Regions from separate parts of the Homo sapiens genome. Here all the other regions are linked to region 3. The links come from fine-mapping of genetic effects on gene expression. A gene starts in region 3. Each other region holds a variant in brackets. All regions are shown on one strand. Distances are from middle to middle. Region 1 overlaps PDCD6IP (programmed cell death 6 interacting protein). Region 2 has its middle 120 kb from the start of PDCD6IP. Region 3 holds the start of PDCD6IP-DT (PDCD6IP divergent transcript).

What was found. PIP is the estimated chance that this variant, and not a neighbour inherited with it, causes the effect.
Region 1: its variant is the best candidate, but not a certain one, in a credible set for the expression of PDCD6IP-DT in monocytes after R848 (Quach 2016, PIP 0.59).
Region 2: its variant is the best candidate, but not a certain one, in a credible set for the expression of PDCD6IP-DT in tibial artery (GTEx, PIP 0.85).

What each region holds. Positions count from the first base shown.
Region 1 is chr3:33,837,185-33,841,184 of GRCh38, forward strand. PDCD6IP (programmed cell death 6 interacting protein) reads left to right here. Exons shown (of 18, transcript NM_013374.6): 9 at 1,020-1,143. Among named protein-coding and RNA genes, the nearest start is that of PDCD6IP, 41 kb to the left of the region's middle. The variant A/T (reference allele first, on the strand shown) is at 1,622.
Region 2 is chr3:33,914,686-33,919,041 of GRCh38, forward strand. No RefSeq gene overlaps it. Among named protein-coding and RNA genes, the nearest start is that of PDCD6IP, 120 kb to the left of the region's middle. RefSeq lists an enhancer at 3,967-4,356. The variant A/C (reference allele first, on the strand shown) is at 2,555.
Region 3 is chr3:33,795,788-33,800,099 of GRCh38, forward strand. PDCD6IP-DT (PDCD6IP divergent transcript) reads right to left here and starts at 2,732. Exons shown (of 2, transcript NR_183731.1): 1 at 2,608-2,732; 2 at 1-2,235. It overlaps PDCD6IP (programmed cell death 6 interacting protein), which reads left to right and starts at 2,843. Exons shown (of 18, transcript NM_013374.6): 1 at 2,843-3,150. The coding sequence starts at 2,942. RefSeq lists enhancers at 2,710-3,059, 3,006-3,539.

The DNA.
Region 1 (4,000 bases), 41 kb after region 3:
GCTTGGATTACAGGCATGAGCCACCGTGCCCGGCCTATTTCTTTAAACATGTAAACTTCTGGAGTGGTATTTGTATGAGATAAATACATGTTATTATATTGTAGATGTATACAACAGATGGTAGCCTCTAGCTGAGATTCCAAGGAGAATATTCTGTTACTGGGAAAGGGTGATTATATGTTTATTTAGCAAACACAAAGTGTTTACCATGTGCCAGGCACTCTTTAAGCACTTTACAAATATTAGCTCATTTGTTTTCAGAAGTGCCCTGAGATGGGTACTGTTATTATCCCTATTTGATGAGGATACTGATGCACAGAGTGGTTAAGTAATTTCCTCAAGGTCACATAGCTAGGAAGTGTTGGAGCCAGAAATGGAATCCTGCTGCCGTGACCCACTCAGTCAATTTTTTTTTTTTTTTTGAGACCGAGTCTTGCTCTGTTGCCCAGGCTGTGGTGCAGTGGTGCAATCTCGGCTCACTGCAACCTCCGCCTCCTGGGTTCAGACGATTCTCCTGCCTCAGCCTCCCCAGTAGCTGGGACTACAGGCTCCTACCATTACACTGGCTAATTTTTGTATTTTTAGTAGAGATGGGGTTTTGCCAAGTTGGCCAGACTGGTCTTGAACTCCTGACCTCAGGTGAGCCACCTGCCTCGGCCTCCCAAAGTGCTGGGATTACAGGCCTTAGCCACTGCTCCCGGCCCCTCATTCAGTTTAATCAACAGATGAACAGTGTCACTGAAGATCCCTCAAACTCAGTGATGAACACATCTGAAAAAGAAAGAAAATTAAGTTCAAAGAAGAAACTTTTCATTGTTGCCGTTGTCCATGAATGTAGTGATCTAAAAATTCTCTTTATCATTGTGCTTTAAATAGTGATTTAGTTTTGATCTTTAAATGTCAATAGACAATAAATATTTATAGACTATGTGAATATTGGAAAGAAAATATAAACAGTCACTTTTACAGTTCGGGTTTTTGTCTAAAAATTTTGTTGTAATTTCTCTTCCTAATTTTAGATCTGTTTGAGAAGATGGTTCCCGTGTCAGTACAGCAGTCTTTGGCTGCCTATAATCAGAGGAAAGCCGATTTGGTTAACAGATCAATTGCTCAGATGAGAGAAGCCACCACTTTGGCAAATGGGTAGGTAGAGCTTAATTTTAGAGCCTAAAGTTTTCCGTTTGGTTGTTCTTTAGTTTATGAACATTTTAGTTTCTGAGCTTAGAGCTAAATGTCAAGAGTATATAAAATAGAAAATGTAGACACACACTTACAACTATTTTTGTTGGACACTGTATTTATGAAGCTCTAGCAAATATAGTTGGAAGAAATTATAGAAACAAGGTGAGGATATGAGGACTAAAAATTTGTATTTTAAGAGGTATTTATTTGGAAATGAGAAGTAGAAATGAACTCAGATACATGGTACATTTAGTGTTCTGAACCAATTTTTGTTTCTGATGGACTGAATACTAAGAAAATAATTCATTGGTTTAAAAAATTTTTAGGTATATTTTACACACACAAAATACACCTATTCTAAGTGCACAGTTCAATTATTATATGTATATGTGTGTGTGTGTGTGTATGTGTATATATATATATTTATGTATATATATAT[A/T]TTTTTTGTTTTTTGGGACAGGGTCTTATTGTCACCAGGCTGGAGTGCAGTGGTGTAAACACTAAACATGGCTCACTGCAGTCTCAACCTTCTGGGCTCAGGTGATCCTCCTGCCTCAGCCTCCTGTGTAGCTGAGGCCACAGGTGCAAGCCACCACACCTGGCTAATTTTTTGATATTTTTATAGAGACAAGATCTCACTTTGTTGCCCAGGCTGGTCTTGAACTCCTGGGCTCAAGCGATCCTCCTGCCTTGACCTCCCAAAGTGCTGGGATTACGGGCATGAGCCACCATGCTTGGTCATTTAGTTAGTTTTGATAAATGTATGTACCCATGTAACCGGCACTATGATTAAGTTAGAGAACATTACTGTTACCCTAAAAAAATTCTCTCATGCCCCTTTCCCAGTCCTTCTTCTTTTAGCCCCTGGCCGCTATTGATCTGCTCCCTGTCTTAAGTTTAGTTTTACTTTTTATACAATTTAAAACACGTGTAATCATTCTAGCATATGCATATACAGTACTTACAGTATGTACAGTATATACTTAGAATGTGTTTTGCTTTTTTTCACTTAGCTACTGTTTTTGAGATTCATCTATATTATGTGTATCAGTTTCAGTCTTTTCTATGGCTGAGCAGTATTCCATTTTATGGTTATAGGGCAGTATTCCATTTTATGGTTATACGGCAGTATTCCATTTTATGGTTATAGAGCAGTTTGTTAACTCTTTCACCTGTTAATGGGCATTTCAGTTTCTGTGAACATTCATGTATAAATCTTCGTGTGGACATATTTTAGTTCTCTTGGGTAAATACTTAGGAGACAAATTGTTAGGTTGTGTGGTTAGCATATTTAATTTTATACAAAATTGCCAGGTTGTTTTCCAAAGTGGTTGTTCCATTTTATATCCTATCTGCACTGTTTGAAAATACAATTGTTCTGCATCCTCACCAATACTTGGTATGTCAGTCTTTTTAGTTTTAGCTACTTTAGTGTGTGTGTAGCAGAATCTCACTGTGATTTAGTTTGCATTCTCCTAATTGCTAATGATACTGAGCAGCTTTTCATGTGCTTACTAGCCATTCATATATTTTCTGTAAAGTGTCTATTGAAATCTTTTTCTCAGTTTTTAAAAGTGAGTTTTTCTTAATAGTTAAAGACTTCTTTACATATTTTGGAGGCAAGTCCTTTGTCAGATACATATAATTGAGAATATAGGTGACCCTGAACAACATGGGGTTATGGATGCTGACCCCCCTGCACAGTCAAATCTGCATATAACTTCTGAGTCCCCAAAACTTAACTACTAATAGCCTGCTGTTGACCAGAAGCCTTACCGATAAACAGTCAATTAACACATACTTTGTATATGTATTATATAGTATATTCTTATAATAAATAAGCTAGAGAAAAAATACTATTAAGAAAATCATAAGGAAGAGAAAATATATTTACTATGATTAAATGGAAATGGATCATCATAAAGGTCTTCATCCTTGTCTATTTCAAGTTTGAGTAGGCTGAGGAAGAGGCGGAAGGAGGGTTGGTCTTGCTGTCTTACAGGTGGCAGAGGTGAAAGAGGTGAAAGTCCACAGGTACACGGACTCATGTAGTTCAAATCTGTGTTGTTCAAGGGCCAACTGTATTTCTCTTGTAGTTGGCTTGCCTTTTCATGTTTTTAGTTTTGATTAATGCATGGATTTTACCATCATTTTTCTCTAACAAGAAAGGAATGTAAGTTTACTCTAGCATATGATAAACAGGCAGTCTGAGATTTTACAGAGCTTATTTTCTGAGGAGTTCATTGTATTACATCATTTCATTTGCCTTTTTGTCGTTACATAGTAGATAGGGATATGTACCTCCCTTCGCCATCATGTAACTGAAATAACTGAGGAATTGTTATTGTGCTACAAAACTGAGAACAGATGAAGATTCTGTAATGAATACTTAGATCATCTATTTTCTGTTGACATTTTGCCTAGATGATGTGAAATTATAACTATTGATTCTGTTGAAAGAGAGCAAAAAAGAAAAAAATAACTATTTTGTGTATTGTTTCTGACTTGTTAGAGATGCTGTAACAATCAAAAGTATAAAAGACTGCTTTTTTAGGATAGAATTTTTGACTTTTAATTACTTAGACTGAAAGAAGTTTGAACTGTAAGCCGACGATACCTAATATATTTTAATGCGGTCATAGTTTTTCTTATTTTTTGACTTTTTTTTTTTTTTCCCCCGAGACGGAGTCTCACTCTGTCGCCCAGGCTGGAATGCAGTGGTGAGATCTTGGCTCACTGCAACCTTCGCCTCCCGGCTTCAGGTGATTCTTGTGCCTCAGCCTCCCAAGTAGCTGGGATTATAGGTGCTCACCACTAC
Region 2 (4,356 bases), 120 kb after region 3:
TCAGCTCCTTGGGGCCTCAGCCTGAGAACTGAGCAGGATTGCCTATCACCCACCACTGTCCTGGGCGACACCCACTCTTCATGGTGTCACCTCAGGGCCCAAAGCCCCCAGAGCTGGGACTTGACTACCCACTTCTCCTGCCCAGTGGGTAGAAGCAAGGAAGGTCTTGCAAAAATAAAAGCTGTGGCCATCAAGTAGAGGGGCGGGGGAGGAGGTGTGCGAGCAAGGCTGGAGGACAGCCGCCGCACCCCACCCCCCCATGGGTTATCAGTTGTTGCATTCCCTTGGAGAACAATTTACGACTGAGGAGGCAGGTCCCAGAGGCTTCAGCAGAAATCAAAAGGCAGCAGCAGTTATTACCTCGTCTGCTCCTCACATCTCTCCTCTCCATCTCCCAGCTTTTTTTAATATAAGGGTCTGCTGTTGTGGCCTCGAGAAGCCCCTGTCTATTCTCATACTCATCATCTCTCGTAGAACAAAGTGACAGTCAAGGGCAGTGCAACGGGGGACTTGGTGGTTTCCTAACAGTGAATCATAGTAATAGTGAGCCACTCAGTGCCAGCCACAGGGCTAAATTGTTCCATGTGTATTATCTCGGTCAGTTGGTCATTATTGTCCCCATTTTATTAAGAAGAAAACTGAGGATGAGACTACATTGTAAGTGGTGGAGTCGGATTTTAAGCTCCAGGTGCAAGTACTTAAAACACTCCCCTCTGCTGCCCACTACGGCTGCAGGCTTCCTGCACACTCCAAGCTGTCTGCAACAGGGTTGTCCTGTGCACTGTGTAGGGGCCACTGTGCTATTTAAAGACAGAACTGAGGCTCTTTTTGAGTACTTAGCTGCTAATTAAGTGTTGACGAGTCTCTGTTTCTCCTTTAGCTCTTTGTGTTTCAAGCACAGCCTCTTGTCCAGCAGCATGGACACTGCCTGGAAGCTTATTAGAACTGCAGACTCCTGGATCCACCCACCCCAGGCCTGCTAGATCAGAATCTGCATTTTAACAAGGTCCTCCTTGGTCCAGTGTACCATTTGAGAAGCTCTAGAGGTGTTTTTGCTATACAAAAGCTAGTTCAAGGGCTTCTTTCAGAATGGGGGCTGGGGCAGATGCAATACCTAGAAGTCCCATGCTGGTGTGTCCCTGTTGTCAGAAACAACGATTTCCCTGCAAGGGATGGGGAAAGCCAAACCCAGTTTTAGTATCTGTTTCCAGGGCAATGAACAAAATAGCCCAAAGAAATACTCTCAGCAGCTCTCTGAGTTAGGCAGATCTGCCAGTGTGCAAACGCTAGATGGCAATGGATGGCCAGGCACGAGCGGGAAGCAGGCATAGCTCTGTCACTGTCAAGGGGCAAGACAAAATGATAAAGGCAAGGTGCCGGGGGAGGAAGTGCGCTTGAGCACAGTTGGGTTGTGAAGGGAGATTGTTGGGATAATATTAAAGAAACTGAGACTTCACCAGCAAGTCTGGGAAGGTTTTTTTGTGGAGTGAGAGATTTGGGCAAGAGTGATTGCTTCTTTTTTGCCTCTAGCTATGTTAAACACACCAGTCTCCCCACAGGGGAGGGATGTCAGCAGCTGGTATGGTGAAGCTGAGGGAATTAAGCATGGGTCAAAAGTTCCTAATCTACTCCCTGAGGTCAGGGAGGCAGTGGCAGGCATTCTGCAACATTGGTTAGTGAAAGCTGGCCTGAGGGAATGAGCACATCCTTTCCCACCACGCCCTGTGCTGGCATGATATGCCCACATGCTGCCCCGGTGCTCGTGGGTAACACCCTCATGCCTCTTAAAGACTTGGAGGTGAAGTGCTTGGATCACAGTCCTCTTGTGTCCAGCTGTTTGGCTGAATCTGGGGTGGAAAAAAAAAAGCAGAATTATCCTGGCTCCTAAATTTCTCTTTTCTTCACCCTCCACAGATTCCCTGGGACTAACTTGTAGGGTGGAGCCCTGTTGCACTCATATTGGAGAGGCTGGAGTCCATCTTTGGACTTGAGGGACTTGGCTTCTAAGAAAACAAGGCAAAGGGAAGTTTTGTGAAATTCCCCAAATTGTAGGGTCACCTTATAGAGCTGGCCTCTTTTATTCTATGGTGGTTGGTTCCGGTAGGACCCTCTCATTTGGTCAGTGGAGCCAAAAGTTGAAGAATTTTGTTGGACAGTCGTTGAAGAAAAAGCCATGTTTTCTTGACTTGTTGGTGAGAGTGCTGCCTGAAATATCTTGGAGTCATGACAGGTGGGTAGAGACACATTATTCTTAGAGATTTCAGTGTTTAAGTTCAGGATCTGGACTTTTGCAAGTTATTCTCTTTCTCTAAGCTGAATTTAGGCTTGGCTGGACAGCTGACCAGTGCAGAAGTCTACAAGCCTATAGGTAATAGGGTTCAGAATTATAGGATGGATGCTAGAAATTATTCTGTCTCTCTCTTGCCTTGTTCAGATGGGAAAACTGAGGCCCAGAGAATTCCATTTGGTTTATTTCAGCAAAACATAGGCAAGTGCCCACTCTGGGCCAATCCCTGTGCTGGAGATCTAGGTTATAACGAAGAGTATGAGACAC[A/C]GTACCTATTAGTATATGGATTAGTGATCAGCTTATCCATCTAGCTTATGATTCAACTTGTAAGCCCAGGTCACCTGGCTGGCCTGCTGGTGAGTGATGAACACAGGCATAGACTATGGAAGGATTCATTCCTTCTTTCTTCTCTCCCTCCCTCCCTCCTTCCCTCTCTCCCTGCCTTCCCTCTTTCCTTCCTTTCTTCATTTTTTTTTTTTAATTCTGATGATATTTTAAACCTTGAGGGCTTTGCATTTACCGGGTGGAAATGAGTAAGCAGCAATATTAGTGATTCCAAGGACATGTTTGATCACTTTTGTCCTTCCCCAAAGGCCTTGATACAAGACATAGTGCTTTTAGACCTGAGGAAGCAAATTTATTTATTTTTTAATTTATGGGAACTTGCTTTAACTTCTAAGAGGGGGAAAAAACCAAGCTAGTACACTTAAAGGCTTTTTTTTCTTTTCTTTCTTTCTTTCTTTTTTTTTTTTGCTTGAGGAAATACACCTTCTGCGATAGATAAACTCAAAAATACACCCAGGAAGATGCTGTCCAAACTGCAACCCAACCACAATTTACAGTGGGCTGCCCTCATTCTCCAAGTTCTATTTCTTTTCTTTTAGGGTGTATTACTTGAGTAGGTTTTGTAGGTAGAAAGAAATGGTGAATTAAAAATAAAGATGTTACCATCTTTTCTGGAAAATTGCTAGTGAATGGCTGCATCTATTACACAGTGGTATGCAATGATATGAATATCTCAGGTAAATAGACCCCCAGCCCTCCTCACTATTGTGAAATCTGGTAAAGGCTACTGTTTGGGCTTCTGTGTCTGTGCTGACCAACAGGAAGAATTAGGGGCCTAAACATCAGGCACTTGAAGTTTGCATATAATTGAGCTTCCGGACCTCTAAAAATCTTACATTTTATTCACAAACACAGGCATCTGCTACTAATTAAAGTATCAGGGTATAATTATACCCTTTCTTATTAGTAGATATGGAATCTGACAGTTGCTTAGATACAAAATAAGCAAGTGCAGATTGCGTTCTGCATGCTCTTCACAGGCTAGGGAGACAGAACAACAGAATTTTCAAATGCTCTGTGTAAATGAGTCTTGTTGCCCAGAAAATGTGAAGTTCTGAATTATCATTGGTAAATTTGCCTAGGAACAGATGTTAATCCCATCACAACTCTGTGATTTGAGCTTTAATATCATTCAATTCTTTCCCTTGCCCGGTCCCCTCACCCCTGCACTGCACCCTAACCACAAAACAAAAAGCACGAGTCTTTCCAAGATACACACAGTTAAGGCCTATCATCTAACAGCATTGCAGGGAGAAAGCAGTTGTGGCTTCCTCAGGAAATTCTAGAGCCTGAAGAAACTGTCTAGAATGGCAGGGCTGTGTTGTGGCTGGCTTAGCCATTGGGTTTGTCCAAGGTCCACTTTGGGCTCAGTGGTGTGGATTCTGTGTCCAGGGAGCCTTGTGGTCATTTTAAGATATCCTCTCCCCAGTGCCCAGCTATGTCTTCACATCATATAATCAGAGAAGTTCCCTGCTAACCCATCCGCTCCAGGAACTTGGGGACCAGGCCTTTTTTTGGTCACCTGGTATATCACCAGTGTCTAGTTTGTTGCTTGGCCCTTAGAAGGTGCTTAGTAACTACTTACTGAAAGAATGGATTCTGTTGAGCCCTTACATGCATATAACCCTGGGAAAGGTGACACTTTCAACCTCAGTAGTCATTTACTCCTCAGATTGTGTGAATTGATTAGATCAGGAGTTGGCAGGCTATAGCCCCAAGGCCAA
Region 3 (4,312 bases):
TTTAGTGGGGAAGTCAGATAAAAATTATATCAACAAACAAAATACTTGCAAGTTAGGGTAAGTGTTATGAAGGAACTAATGGCTGCGCTAGAGGTTAACAAGGGAGGGAATCTACTTTAGATAGTATGATGATGAGGAGAGGAGACCTTTCAACTGAGATATGAAGAAAGGGAGAAAACATTCTAGGTCACATGAGGCAAGAAAGATCTTGGTGTGTTTGAGAAACTAAAAAGACCATTGTGACTCAGTGGTAACAAATGAGGAACAAGAGGCAAAATATGAAGTTGCAGAGAAAGATCATCATGTTGTGGCAGGGAGTTTGGTTTTCATTCCAAGCCATCAGATAGTATCACCTTAATCTTCCTTTGGTCAATGCCACAAAACTAACCACATCTATGTTAACTTTCTTTTCTCCGCCATCTGCCTCAACAAATGTCATGTCCCTCATCTTTCTGATGGCTAATCACTCCCTTTGTATCCTCCCTCCTCTGGTTACCCTTTCTCCTCTTTTCATATACTTTGCTTCTTCGTTATCTTCCCAATGGGTCAGTCCTGTCAACCAACCTACAAGACACCACCCATCCCCCACCCTCTTCCATGGGTTATCAACTGGTAATGATTCTACTAACCACTCAGATGTTCAGGCCCCAAAACCAGGACCTATCTTGACCACTCTCTTTTCTTTACTTTCCTATGCAGTTCATTGGTAAATTCTTCAGTTTTAAACTCAAAGATATTATCAGTTTGGTTCACTCTTGCTAATGTTAGCTTTCCTGATTTCGTCTTGATTTCTGAAATGGTCTCATGATTTGCCTCCTTGCCTCCATTCTTTCCTTCCTCTAATTTTTTCTTTATGCATCAGCCAAGGGTGGCTACTTATTTTAACATAGAATAGCTTAATTAAAATAAACAAAAATTTTTATAAATTGTGGTAAAATAGGCCGGGTGCAGTGGCTCACGCCTGTAATCCCAGCACTTTGGGAGGCTAAAGCGGGTGGATCACTTGAGGCCAGGAGTTCGAGACCAGCCGGGCCAACATCGCGAAATCCAGTCTCTATTAAAAATACAAAAATTAGCCAGGCATGTGGTGTGCACCTGTAGTCCCAGCTACTCAGAAGGCTGAGGCAGGAGAATAGCTTGAACCTGGGAGGTGGAGGTTGCAGTGGGCTGAGATTGTGCCACTGCACTCCAGCCTGGGTGACAGAGTGAGACTCTTTCTAAAAAAAAAAAAATTGTGGTAAAATAAACTTTTACTATAATGAAAGTAGTCTATGTGCTGCAAAAGTTACAATGAAAAAGATAGGCAAACACAAAGAAAAAAATACACATTTCCACTTCCAAAGATTACCAATACTAACACCTTAGGGTATAAGCCCACTATTTTTTTAGTTGTACATAAATACATATATGTGCATTTTTAAACCAAAATGAGATGCTGTAACATACTATTTCGTGACTTGCTCTTTTCAGTTAATGATCTTTTCCATGGCAATACAGTTCTATTTTATCCAATACTCAGTCCATCTACATTCATATTTCTTTAATGGTCCTGAAAATGCATTTTATAGACAGTCTGTTCAAACCAGGATCCAATTCAAACTGTTATGTCCCTTAAATTTCTTTTCATAAAGCAGTTGCTTTTATCATGACAAATTGTTGAAGAGATGGGCCAGTTATCCTGCAGAATGTTTCACCTTCTGGATCTGTCTAGTTACTTCCTCTGGCATCATTTAGTTTGTTCATCTATCTGTTGTATTTTTTATAAACTGTGTTAGATGCAAAGGCTTGACAGATTCAAGTTAAATATTTTTGCCTGGAATATACCATGATGATACTGTATACTACATCCCATCAAAAGACAAACTATCCGATTGAGCTACAACGTGGCCTTTAAAAAATGTAAATTATAAGTGTATATAGCTTCCTCTGCATTTATTATACAATACTAAACAAATTCTTCAACTTGGACAACAAGTTTCTGAATGATTTGATGCCTGCTTACTCATCCAACTTTATTCCATCCCATTCTATTTGTTTTTAAAGGTCTTGTCACATGTTTCGTTTCTAGTCCTGAAACATGGTTAAGTGCTTGCCTCCTAGGGCCTCTGCCGCAGGCTTTTGGTTTGGAGGCTCTCCTTTGCCACTCCACCCCTCTCCACTCTTCTCCTCTTCTGATATCAAGCATCTTCTCAAATTACAGGTGTCGTTTTTAATTTATTTAAAATTTTGTTCTTTCTACAAAACAGCAACCAGAGACACAGGTTCATTTTCAGTTAACCTACTCGGAGAAAACCTACTTTATCTTATTTAAATTAGGGTCCTCCAAGCGATCTTAACATCTCCTAAGTCCCAAGCACCCTGTTTTTTTCCTGATACTTTTTCCGTTTACCTTAAGGTCTGTGTCAACCTGACAGTAAGCTGCACGATGGCAGGGGTCTTGCCTACTAGGTTCCCTGTGCACAGCAGCCCGTCAACAGTAGTTGAATAAACATCATAGGTCACAATAACCCTGGGACTGCCTCTTGGGGAGGTAGCCGCAAACTCTCGCAGGTGGCAGTGACACCAGTACTTCTCCGGGGGGTTGTTCGAGTGGAGGAATACTCTTACGTGAAAGTGCTCAGTACACCACTGCGGCAGGAAGGAGGAAGGGAAGAATTCCAGATGGGGAGAAAGTAATATTTTGCAGCACAGTACAGGGTAAACTGGGTCCAGGTGGGCGTAGCCGCCGCGACACCTTCACGTGACCGCGGACAGCTTAAGGACCCCGCATCCAGTGCGCCTGCGCTGGAGCTCCCGGAAGTTGCCGGACCCGGAACGCAGGCGGAGCGCAAGTCTGTCAGCCAGTCAGTCCGCCAGTCCGCCAGCCCAGTACCTCTCTCTCCTCGGCCCTCGTAAGCTGTCCGCGGTCTGTTTGGCCCGAACGGCGGCGGAGGCGCTGATCATGGCGACATTCATCTCGGTGCAGCTGAAAAAGACCTCAGAGGTGGACCTGGCCAAGCCGCTGGTGAAGTTCATCCAGCAGACTTACCCAAGCGGCGGGGAAGAGCAGGCCCAGTACTGCCGCGCGGCGGAGGAGCTCAGCAAGCTGCGCCGCGCCGCAGTCGGTCGTCCGCTGGACAAGCACGAGGGCGCGCTCGAGACGCTCCTGAGGTGGGCGCGGGGCTGGGAGTGGGTAGGTTGTCTGCCAGCCGTCGCTCGCCGCTCCTCTTCCCGTCTCCCCCCTTCCTTCAATCCTGTAACCTGGGCGGAGCCGCCCCGTCCCGGCCTGACCAGGCGCGTAGGTGTGGTCTGCATTCTTTGCTGGTGAGCAGGACCCGCCCTGCAGGCCCGCTGTGACTGCCCGCTTGTCCTGCCTGCACGTCTGCTCTAGCCCTTGGTCGGCGAGGGCTCCGTGGATCAGATACCTGGGAGCAGCAGTCTGCCCTGTACTGATCTCTTTTGCCACATTTACTTAGAACTAGTCTTCACTTTTTTGGGTCTCTAACTGAAGCTTCCCCTTTCGCCCCATTTTTCCATCACTGTCTTTCTTGGGCCACATTTTGATTTCATAATAGTAGTTGCTTGAAGGCAGTGGGGGAAGTGGGGGAATTGGGACACTGGACCAAATGTCTGATCAGCTCATCACATTGTCCACATGAAATGGACCGTCTTCCTCAGTTCAAAATAATCAAATGATAGATGGAGAATTCTGAAAGTTAGGAGCTACAACTATTTGAAATAAAACTCTAGTTACATAGTTGAACCGTTCAAGGTAGGTTGTTTAAAAGCAGTTTGTTCACAAACAGATATATACACAGTAGAGTAAATTTGTTATTTTAGCAAACGCTTATTTAGCTCATGCTGATTTAATGAGGGTTCCTTTCATGATACTTAATAGTTATAAGAACATTTTTTACGATTTTATAGTTAAACATTTCTTTTGCATACCTTGTTAATCTCGTTTTCTCCGTATAGTATATTCTACTTGTTTCACAGGAGAATCACAATTGTATTCCAATCCAAGTAGCAGAAACCCAGGCTAAACTAGCTTGAGCTAAGAAAAGACTTATTCTGCCGGGCGCGGTGGCTCACGCCTGTAATCCCAGCACTTTGGGAGGCCGAGGCGGGCGGATCACGAGGTCAGGAGATCGACACCATCCTGGCTAGCACGGTGAAACCCCATCTCTACTAAAAATACAACAAATTAGCCGGGCGTGGTGGCGGGTGCCTGTAGTCCCAGCTACTCGGGAGGCTGAGGCAGGAGAATGGTGTGAACCTGGGAGACGGAGCTTGCAGTGAGCCGAGATCGCGCCACTGCACTCCAGCCTGGGCG